Regions from separate parts of the Homo sapiens genome. Here region 2 is linked to region 1. The links come from fine-mapping of genetic effects on gene expression. A gene starts in region 1. The other region holds a variant in brackets. All regions are shown on one strand. Distances are between the middles of the regions.

Evidence for each region. PIP is the estimated chance that this variant, and not a neighbour inherited with it, causes the effect.
Region 2: its variant is the best candidate, but not a certain one, in a credible set for the expression of TIGD2 in thyroid (GTEx, PIP 0.64).

What each region holds. Positions count from the first base shown.
Region 1 is chr4:89,108,319-89,113,654 of GRCh38, reverse strand. TIGD2 (tigger transposable element derived 2) reads right to left here and starts at 2,122. Exons shown (of 2, transcript NM_145715.3): 1 at 1,772-2,122; 2 at 1-1,588. The coding sequence starts at 680. RefSeq lists a silencer at 1,865-2,314 and enhancers at 2,395-2,474, 2,505-2,614.
Region 2 is chr4:89,165,010-89,170,401 of GRCh38, reverse strand. No RefSeq gene overlaps it. Among named protein-coding and RNA genes, the nearest start is that of TIGD2, 56 kb to the right of the region's middle. The variant C/T (reference allele first, on the strand shown) is at 2,109.

The DNA.
Region 1 (5,336 bases):
ACACAAAGATTAAGTTTGTGTAAACCTGTGGCATTTGCGCAACACATAATGATGATTCTCTCTCTGCTTGACCTACACCCAGAAGTACTTTGGTCAGTTTCAAGAGTTAATGTCCTTGATGGTAGACATTTCCAAAACAATCCAGTTTGATCAGCACCATAAATTTGCTCTGGTTGTAGATTCTCTTTTTCAACAAATTCCTGAAAGCTACCACAAAATTCTCTGGCAGCAGTTTCATCTCCTTTTAATTTTGTTCCTTTACCAGCAGCCTTTGGAATACCATGGCGCTGCTTAAATCGAGTTAGCCAGCCTGACGATGCATTAAAATCACCTTCCATTCCCAAAGCATCAAAAAAGAACTTGGCTTGTTTTGCACAAATCGTTCCGGACACTGGAATCCCATCTGTTTTCTGTTGGTTAAACCACTCTATCATAACTCTATCAAGCTCCTCGTATGTTGATGACTTCATAGATTTACGTTTGGATACTCCACTGGTAGGATCTGAACTGTTTGCATAGTTTATAATCCTTTCTTTGTTCTTTTTAATATCACGAACTGTGGATTCACCAATTCCGTACACCACGGAAAGTTTTTTGAAAGAGATGCCTTCCTCAAGTTTCTTAATAATGTCAAGCTTGTCCTTAATTGTCAACACCACACGCTTACGTTTCCCCAACATTTTAAGTGTCTAATATTTTAGGTGATTACTAGAACAAGATAATTAACAACTAAGATTTGAATACAAAGCAACTAGAAAATGAGTTCGTAAGATTCCTCCTCTCACTTCTAGGGCCTAGATGGATAGTGACCAATTTCCTGACAAGGTCTACGTGAATCTACTTGCTATTTTAAAACTTACAAACTTCCTACAACAAAGCCTAGCGCCAATTAACTCTTATCTTCTATCTTTCTTCCTCCTCAGGGTTCAGGGTCTTTCATGAAGTGCAATCACACTAGAGGCTAGAAACTGTACTGGTAAGGCTTCTAAAACAGTACTATTGCATACTCAATTCTTGCCATCCTTGCAGGTAATGTTCTTTGCCAGAATAGCCACTAAATCTCAGGTGGAAGTATTTTAGGAAATGTGCTAGGGAGTAAACAGTTTAAGTCAAGAGAGGACTTGCAAACTTGACATACAGGAAAATACAATGGGAAAACTCACCCTCTGACTATGTGGTCTTTGTCAAGCAGTGGATTGTATGGAATGCTGTCTCTCTAGGCACGGACTCTGCTATAGGTTGCGCAAGTGAGTGCTTGTGGAAATCATACGCAAGAGAAGATGACCCGGACAGAAGTGAACAGTGCAAATAAGGTGAAAGTGGAACAGGCAGAAAACTCTACTTTAAAAGCGACTTAAACCTACTAGATTTGGCAGCTGGAAAGGAGGATAGTGGACATGTGATGTCACATTACTAAAGAAAGCATCAAAAAAACTGCATCGGTGGAAATGAGGACCCAAGGTAGAGGCTATGGGGTGGCAGGCTCGGTGAAGATGATGTTACAATAATCCTGGTGAAAGACGATCCTCGATGGACCAACAGAAGCAGTTCCTGTGGGGGCTGTAGAGATACTCGGAGGCTCCGAAACCTAAAGGAAAATACCAAAAACATTTTCTTTCAATTCAACATCAGGATCTGTGGCATTATCCACATTTATCCTGCAACTATGTTGAGAAAATTAACGCCTCCTATCAATGTGATAGCTAAATACGACAAATAATGCTTTCAGGCATAATCTGGGGTGACAGAGAGAGGGACCTGAAGAGCCTACCTCCTGAAATTAAGAGGTCAGGGAGAAGCCGTGTTAGCGAGGGCCTCTCCCCGCTGGGCGAGCTTCAGAGCGCGGGACGTCTTTCCTCCCGCGGAGGGAGCCCGGATTCCGCCTGGACGCCGGCGACCAGGATGTCACTGCTGCAGCCAGCCAGCCAGCGGGCGGCCGCTTGGCACAGGGAACGCCAGTCCGCCGGCCCCGGGCATCGCCCTGGGACCGCCTGCGCGGCGCCCAGACCACACTAAGCGCAAATGGAGTCTCCTGAGGCAGGCTGGCACTGGTGGCCCGGCAGCGGCGAGGGACGAGCGGAGAGGGACGAGCGTCGCCGCCGGAGCCGGAAGGCGGGGGATTAGAGAGCACGCGCGCGCCCCCGCAGAACGTTGTGCCGGCGAGGGGGCGGGGCCTGCGCGGGTGAGCGCACGCGGCCCGGGGGAGGGGACTCCGGCGAGCGGGCGGGAGGGGCGGGGGCCCGGCAGGGGTGCGTCTCTAGGCGCTGCGTGGGTTCCACTCACCGCCTGGCCGTTTCGGGGCCGCAGTGCCTCCCTGGCCGGCAGGGGGAGGCACACGCTCGCCTTGTCCTGGCGCTTTTCCCAGTGGCCCGGCTCTGCCGACGAGGCTCTTTTCTCCCTAGGGGGAAATTTTAAAATCTCACCCCCCCAGTGCTGGGGGGAAAGCGGAGGATCCTCGCGTGCCGGGAGCGGGCTGCGAATGGGGCAGGGCGAGCGCACGTGGGGCGTGTTTACAAACAGCAGCCGCGCCGCCTTGCGGAGGCGGTCCAGGTGTCGGAGCCCAGAGTCAGCGCGCGTGGAAAGTGCTAGCCCGAGCGAGGATCATGAGGCACGGTAGGAGCCGGCGGACGTGGGTTCCGGGCAGGAGCTGGGGCGTTCGCTCGGCAACACCCAGCCGGACAAGCCCAGGGTGCCGAGGCGCGGCGGGCTGCGGTAGAGCCGAGTGTCGGGTCAGCGCTCCCCGGTGCTGATGCTCCGAAACTCGTCACAGTCGCTGTAGAGACGGACCCTTTGCAAAATCGACAGCACCTGGGAGACCCTTGAGCCAGTGGGAGGCGTCGTGGTAAATTTCCTGCCGTGCCTCGACGCCCGGGGCTTCTCAAGTGGAATCGGGGAATTGCGCTTTGACTGATACTCCCTTTATTTGTTTCCAACGGAGACATCTGCGGAAGGGTCACCGCCTTCCTGGAGGAGAGAGTGGTGCACCTCCACCTTGCACCACCTGTTTCCTGGGAAACGCGGTCAGGCTGCCTTCCTTTCCGTCTTGTGTGTGCGTGTCAGTTTGAAAAATTGGAAATTCTTCAGTGAATTATCTCTTCCATATGAACATAAATGTAACCTTTTCGTTAACACAAAGTAACATAGTAATTCGTCATTTCTTTGACAAGGCCATATACTGTTTCTGGAATTTCAGAAACTTGGAGATGGAAATCAAAGCGAGCATACTGTAGAAAACAGATGTTGATTCTAAGCCTTCTGTTTGACTCCGCCGCCAAAACTGCTCAATTGCCTTTCTCAACATAGCAGCCTTCCACTATCTGGCATGACAGAAATTCTTTGATCTAGTTATGTTGTGAGGTTGTAAGTGGCTTTTGGAGAATACCTGCTTTTAGACCTCCCCTCTTCCCTGCCTTCCATTTGGCTTCCAACAAGCCAGTCCCTTTCTGGAAGTCCTGGTTGCCTGTTTTGGGTACATTATAACTTACTTCATGGTAGTTTTATATAACTTTACAAAATATTCTTATTTTCCCTGATACCTGTGAAGAGCGTGAAAGACTGCTAGAACAGCACTTTACCGACTGCCACCCATGTGGAAATGAGGCAGCCTGTAACCAGATGTCAGCCGCCTGCCTTTCCGCCTCTCCCCCGAGTCTGCTGGAGTAGCTGTGTCCCAGGATATTTAAATACAAAGGAATCCTGCCTCTTACTCTTCCTCTCTTTTCCACAGTATCTCTAGGATTTAATTTTCTTCCAGATACCATTTGCATTTTTCTCTGTTCCTCCTGGATTCTCCAGTTTGCTGTTTTATGTCTTATAGCTGTTCCCTTTTTATCACCTTGTGTAAGTTCAAATCTGGATACAGCCCACATTTCTAGATTTTCTCAAAACACCGCTTGACTCAAGGCAATTGTATTTAGTAGACTTTTACTAAGATTTTACTCAAGGCAATTGTGTCTTTACACAAAACAGTTTTATTGGGCAAACTTTCTCCTTTTGTTGGGGGAAGGGGTGGCTAGTTGTGGCAGACATATTACAGCACAAGGGGGAGAGGACTTAGAATGTTAAGAATATGTATATATACACACATATATATATAATAAGAATATATGTATGTGTATGTATGTGTATTTTTGAGACAGGGCTTCTCTCTGTTGCCCAGGCTAGAGTGCAGTGGTACGACCATGGCTTGGGCTCACTGCAGCCTCAACCACCTAGGCTCAAGCAGTCCTTCTGCCTCAGCCTCCCGAGTAGCTGAGACTGTAGGCTACAGGTGCGTGCCATCATGCCCAGGTAATTTTTGTATTTTTTGTAGAGATGAGGTCTTGCTATGTTGCCAGAGCTGATCTCAAACCCCTGGGCTCAAGTCATCCTCCCACCTTAGCCTTCCAAAGTGCTGGGATTACAGGCATGTGCCATCCTGCCTGGCCAATAATAGATTCTTAAGGTGGTGAAACTACTCTGTACAACTGTAATGGTGGGCACATGTCATTAAACATTTGTTCAGATGCACGGAATGTACAACACCAAGAGTGAACCCTAATGGAAACTATGGACTCTGTGATAAAAATGTTTCAAGGCAGGTTCATCAATTGTAACTGATGTTCCACTCTGGTGGGCAATATTGATAATAGGGAGGTTATGGATGTGTGGGGGCAGGGAGTATGTGGGAAATCTCCCTATCTTCTGTGGAATTTTAGAACCTAAAACCATTCTAAAAAATAAAGCCTATTTCTTAAAAATGTAGGTTCAAAAAAAAATGAGAATGTTGGGTGCCTAAGGCAAAGTTGCCTTACTCTTTCTCATGTACTATATGCTCAACACAGCACACACCAAGCAGTTCTCCACTGGACACAGCTGGGTATCCTATAATTCATTTCAATTCTGATACCATCTGCCTGGAGTGTCCCCCCAACTTCAAATTCCAATTCCAAGTAGTAGGTTGTTGTCAGGTTCCAAGCCCAGCTGGGGTCTGAGGGGAGTTGGTGGACGGGTGGTGGGTAGTTGAAAGGACACTTGGGGGACCATAAGCAGTTGAGATACAGCTTTATTCTCTCTCTCTCTCTCTCTCTCTCTCTCTCTCTCTCTCTCTCTCTCTCTCTCTGTGTCAGCCTTTGTTTTGGCCACCTGCTCCAACTGCGGCCTCTCAGCGCTGGCTCCACCGCTCCTGCCACCCCCACGCCTGTAGCTGAGTTCCCCATTGTGCTTGCCGCTTCCTGACTCCCCTCCCAGCCACCTGCAAGGTGGCCCAGCTCTCTCTTACAGAGTCAGCAGTCCAGTTATATTGCTCACAGACAATAGTGGCTCAAAGCCAGTTGATGAGCCCACCCATAATGTGG
Region 2 (5,392 bases), 57 kb before region 1:
CAATCCGTATATGCTTTCAAAATTTCTTTATACATAAGCAAGAAAATACAAATATATATTCTTATTTCCCCCTTTTATACAAAAGATAGTATGCAATGCATTGTGTTCTGCACCTTACCTTAGAGATCTTTTCCACATTCAAATGGCCTGAGTATTCTTCTTTGAAGCTTATGTATAATGTTGCATTATATAAGTTACTATAATTTATTTAACCAGTGTTCTGTTGATGGGCATTTAGGTTATTCCCCATCTTTTGCTTTTACAAACATTCTGCAATGAATAATCTTGCATATGTCTTTTGGAGCATGTTCAAATGTAGGTGAATGACATATTACTAGATGTACAATCTCTGGATCAAAGGATTACATTTGTAGTTTAGATGCAATCACCAAGTTGCCCTCCATGGTGCCTGTAACAATGTACACATTGTGTTATCAAACATTCAGATATGTAACAATCTAATAAATGGGAAAATGGTATCAGTTTGGTTTAACTTGCACACCTTTTATGAGTGAATGAAGTTAAGTATATTTCTATATGCTCACAAGCTGCTTGCTAGTGGGGCACAGTGGTGTGTGCCTGTAGTCCCAGCTACTTGGGAGGCTGAGGTAGGAGAATCTCTTTAAATCTTTTGTCCATTTTTCTGTTGGATTTTTTGTTGTCTTTTTCTTATCTATTTCTAGTTTTGTATATGATAGGAAAATTAACCCTATCTCTAATATGAATTATATATGTTCTTATTTCTTTGAATATTTGGCTTTTGGTTCTGCTTAGGATATTTTGCCGTATGTTTATTTCTATGTAGTTAAGTTTCTGAATTTTTTATTTTATTCTATGTTATAAATAATAGAAAGACTCTTCCTCCAAGACAGCAAAATAATTTTTTCAAATATAGGCACATTTAGTTATATAATAATATATTATTGGTAAAATTATGTACCAGATAACATAAAAGATAAATTTGGGTGTATACCAATACGGAAACAGTTTCCACAGTAAAAACATTAGTATAGTATGTAATATGTATTAAGTAAAATAATGTTCCCAATTTTCCTTCTTTTCAAAATTCAGTTTTCTTCATAATTCAGTATAATGTGAGTAATGTAGTATATATAAATATAAAAGAGAAAACTTTGTGCATAATAACATTCAACAAAAATTTAATAGTTTAGTAATTTATGGTATGGAATAAGAGTGATGTCACCGAAACAAATGTCCTGAGATTCAATTATCACATTTCATAAAAAATAAAATTCAAAAATAAAAAACAATGATAAAGTTATTTAGCACATCATCCTCCCTTTCATCAGATTGGAGTTATTTGCTTCTTTTTAATTTTAGACTTTCTGGTTACATGCATTTTAACAGATTATTACCTTTTAAAGTTATTATTATTATTTTACATGGGCTAGAACTGTTCAAGACAATAGAGAGCATACCTCTCTAGAAGCTACCTATTGGAGTTAGAATTTGCTAACTCCAATAGGTAGCTTGCTAATGTTTGTTTTCTTTGCAAATCTTACACACTCAGAATAGAAGAGCATTGTAGTTTAAATGAATCAAATGTAAAGAGAGGCCCGCCAACTGATTGACAAGACTTATGAGCATTTGAGACATACATACATGGGTCCAGCAGCCCTGGTGTTCACTGCCAGGGACTCTGTATCAGTAAGTGAATCCATTCTCACCGGTCAGTACCCATGCCATACTTGATATTTTGAATATTTCTTCTGCTCACAGGGGAAGAAAGTACTTCGGTAGCCATGGGTCTAGGATGTGGCTTCAGTTTTAAGGATCAAAAACTCAATTTCTCCAGCTCATTAATAGTGAACTCTAGGAAATGGATTTTTTGGTATATAAACTTGCTAGATGTTTATTGTTACTCTAGAAATTAAAATTGTCTATTTACTATAATAATCATACTTACCAAGAAGCCTGGCACAAAGTGATGCAGTCACATTGGAAAAGAGTTTAGCAGTTCCTCAAAAAATTAAACATGAAATTATCCTATGATCCAAGAATTCACTCCTAGGTATATGTCAGAAATAATTAAAATGTATGTAAGTACACACCACAAAACCTGTACACAATTGTTCATCGTATCATTA[C/T]TTATAATAGCCAAGAGTGGAAAGAACCCAAATGTCCACTGAATGCATCCATAAAGTATGATATAGCCATACAATGAAATATTATTCAGCAACAAAAAGGAATGAAGTACCAATACCTCCTACAGCATGGATGAACTTTGAATACGTTATGCCAAGTGAAAGAGGCCAATTCCAAAAATCCACATAATGTATGATTGCATTTATATGAATGGTCCATGGCAGGCAAATCTATAGAGACTGAAAGTACTGAGTGGTTGCCAGAGGCTGGGGGAAAGATGAATGGGGAGCGATTACTAATAGATAGTGGTGGTGGTTGCACAACTCTGTGAATATCTAAAACCATGGTAGTATGCACTTCTAAAGCATGAATTTTATGGTATTTAATTAATCTGAACCTATTATATAAATATATATTATATATATATAAAATATATATATGAAATAAGACTATTCTCAGTACCAGTTTCTGAAATATTATTAATGGTTCTTCTTTTGGTTCATATTGTCAACTCAGTAATTTATATAAGAAAAAGAATTATTTCCTAAACTAGATAAATTTGGAATTCCCATTAGGCATAGTTCTCCCTAAATTTAGCAGCAGCAGCAATAAGAACATTATGTTATAGGAGAATCCGAAGTTAAACGTGAAGCATGTTCCTGCCTACACTGTATTTGCATTCTGGTCCAAAGGTAATGAGACCTTTTTCATTGACTCAAATATCCTACATTTCTTATCTCTACTTTAAAACTTCAGATTAGATTAATCCAATAGCAATAATAGTAAAATAAAATAGAGGAAAAAAGAATATAAATTAAATGTAAGGAGAAAAAAAAAGCCAAGGCAAATGCAAGAGTTGGACTCATCACTCAAGTAGCAAAAAGGGAGTTATGCTGCCTTCAAGGTCACATGTTTCAGGTCTCTCTTTCTCTAAAACATAAAACTTGTTACAGAGAATTTTCTCACATTCCATAGTGTATTAGTAAAAAGGTGCATCTAGAATCCAAGTTTCCTGACCCCTAGTCCATTGTTTTTTCTGCCCACAGTCATTTATCCTTTCACATTCTCTGTTTTCTCATGTATAACATGAGGATAAAAAACCCTTTCCTAAGGCCTTCCAACAGGAATTAGTGAGTAACACATGCAAACACCATGGTGGCTGGCACATTGTTAGCCATTGTGTATGGCTATATCACACTTTATACATCCATTCAGTGGGTATTTGGGTTGTTTCCACTCTTGGCTATTATGAATAATGCTACTATGAACAATTGCATACAGGTTTTTTGGTGTGTACATACATACATTTTAGTTATGTAAGACATATACCTATGATTGTATACAATCTACAATAAATATCTGTTGGATGAATAATCAAATGAAGGAGTAAATAAATAAATGTTTTGTTTTCTTCCCTTTCCCTTGGGTGTCAGCTCAAATTTCCTTCCTCCCCAGTATCAAATAAAGAAGATACAGGAAAACGTCTTCCTAGATAGGAAGAAAAATTAGGCTTTGCTTATTCTTTTTTCCCAAATATATTAAGTGATTTGTCTAACGTCCCATAGTTATCAAGTGGTTAAGGAAGATTTTACCTGATTTCAATACCATTAAGTTTACCCCATTAAACTATCGTACCTTTCAAGAGGTAGCTATCTTAACATATGAGAAGTTTAAATTGTGTCCCTTTTTAGTCAAAGACTAGATATTTTGTACATCATAGACATTTGAGAGCTGGAATTGTTTATATTGTAAATTTGAGCTGGAAAGAAATCAGTGAATCTTGAGCACATCTTGTGCACCCATTTCTGTGTAGAGGATGTAACTGAAAAAGCATTAATGCTGAAACTTAGCTTCTCCAGCACCTCAACCAATGTACTTGAACACAATGTGTATCTTGTTTTTCCAACCCAATTTGGGTTTCTCAAATTCTAAAAGTAGAAAGTTTACCCGATTAATATGACCACTCAATGTAGTGCAGAGAGATAGGCTTTGGGAATTACCCAAGATTGGTTCTGAAATATAACCCCCATCACTTATCAAATGTGTAATAGGAAAAGCCACCTAACCTGTTTGAGGGATATTCCTGTCTCATACAGTCATTGAGAGGATTAAATGATAAAATATATGTGAAAAATTTAGCAAGGTCCTGGCACATTCTAGGCACCCATAAATTATTAACCCCCTTTCTTATGGCTTCTGTTGAGTGTAAGACAAATATAGCATTTTAACCATTTGCGTTTGTTTGCCTCTTTCAGTGTTTTTAAGGCTTTCTCCTATATGTGAGCATATTGTAGCTTGTCTTACTGAGAGTTCGAGTAGTCTTCCTCTTTGATAGTTGGAACTATAACTCGCATTGAGACAGAAGGTCTATGAAGATGAGGACTATGGCTTTTTTCCTCTCAAAGACATGGTAGTGCTTATATCTCTAACAGGTGACAATTATCTGAATGTTTCTATTTTTTTCCTCTGCAAACCTCATTTTGGTAGTAGCTGCTATGAATGCCACGTTAAGAAGGGTTTTGCAGTCATTGGAAAGAGTTTTGTGGTTCAATGTCACCACGGCGCAAAGTTAAATAATGGCATCCATGCCACAAATTAGCCATGGACCCCTGAGGGAAGGGAGTTATGCCAAATTAATCTTTGAAGCCCTGACCTTGTACCAATACCTAATGTAGGTCTTTATATGTAGAAGGTCTTCATTCTGTATTTCTTGACTGTTCTTGACTGTATTAATAAATAAATGTACAGATGAAATAATCTGTGCCTGAAAGTGATGAATAGCCAGAAAAGCTGGACAAAAGTGAAATACAGATCCTTTAAAGACATTATCTGTTAAGTGGATCGGCAAAGATCAAGAGAATAAAGAGGAGAGACTGTCTATGAAATTTTATTTAAAATTTGGTAGATAAAGTATTCCCTCGTTTAGTTACACAGGAACACAGGAGTAAATGACTCATTGTTTCATAATGCCCTTTACCCATAGCATTAATTTCTCCCACTATGATGCAGATCAGTTTTATTTGTTGCATCCATCTTCAAAAGGTTAACTCTGAGCCCACTTTTCGCTGTAATAATCCCTCCAGGATACCGCCAGGAACATCTCCTGGAACCATATGGTACTACTTTAGATATGGGATTACGTATGGGAACATAATAGGGCCATTTAAAATTAAAATAACTCTCCAGGAGTGTTGTGCCAATGAGCTATTTAAGATGGTCGACTAAGAAAAATGAGGTGAATATTCGTTACTGAAAAGACTGTATAAAAATAGAATGAAATAAGAGG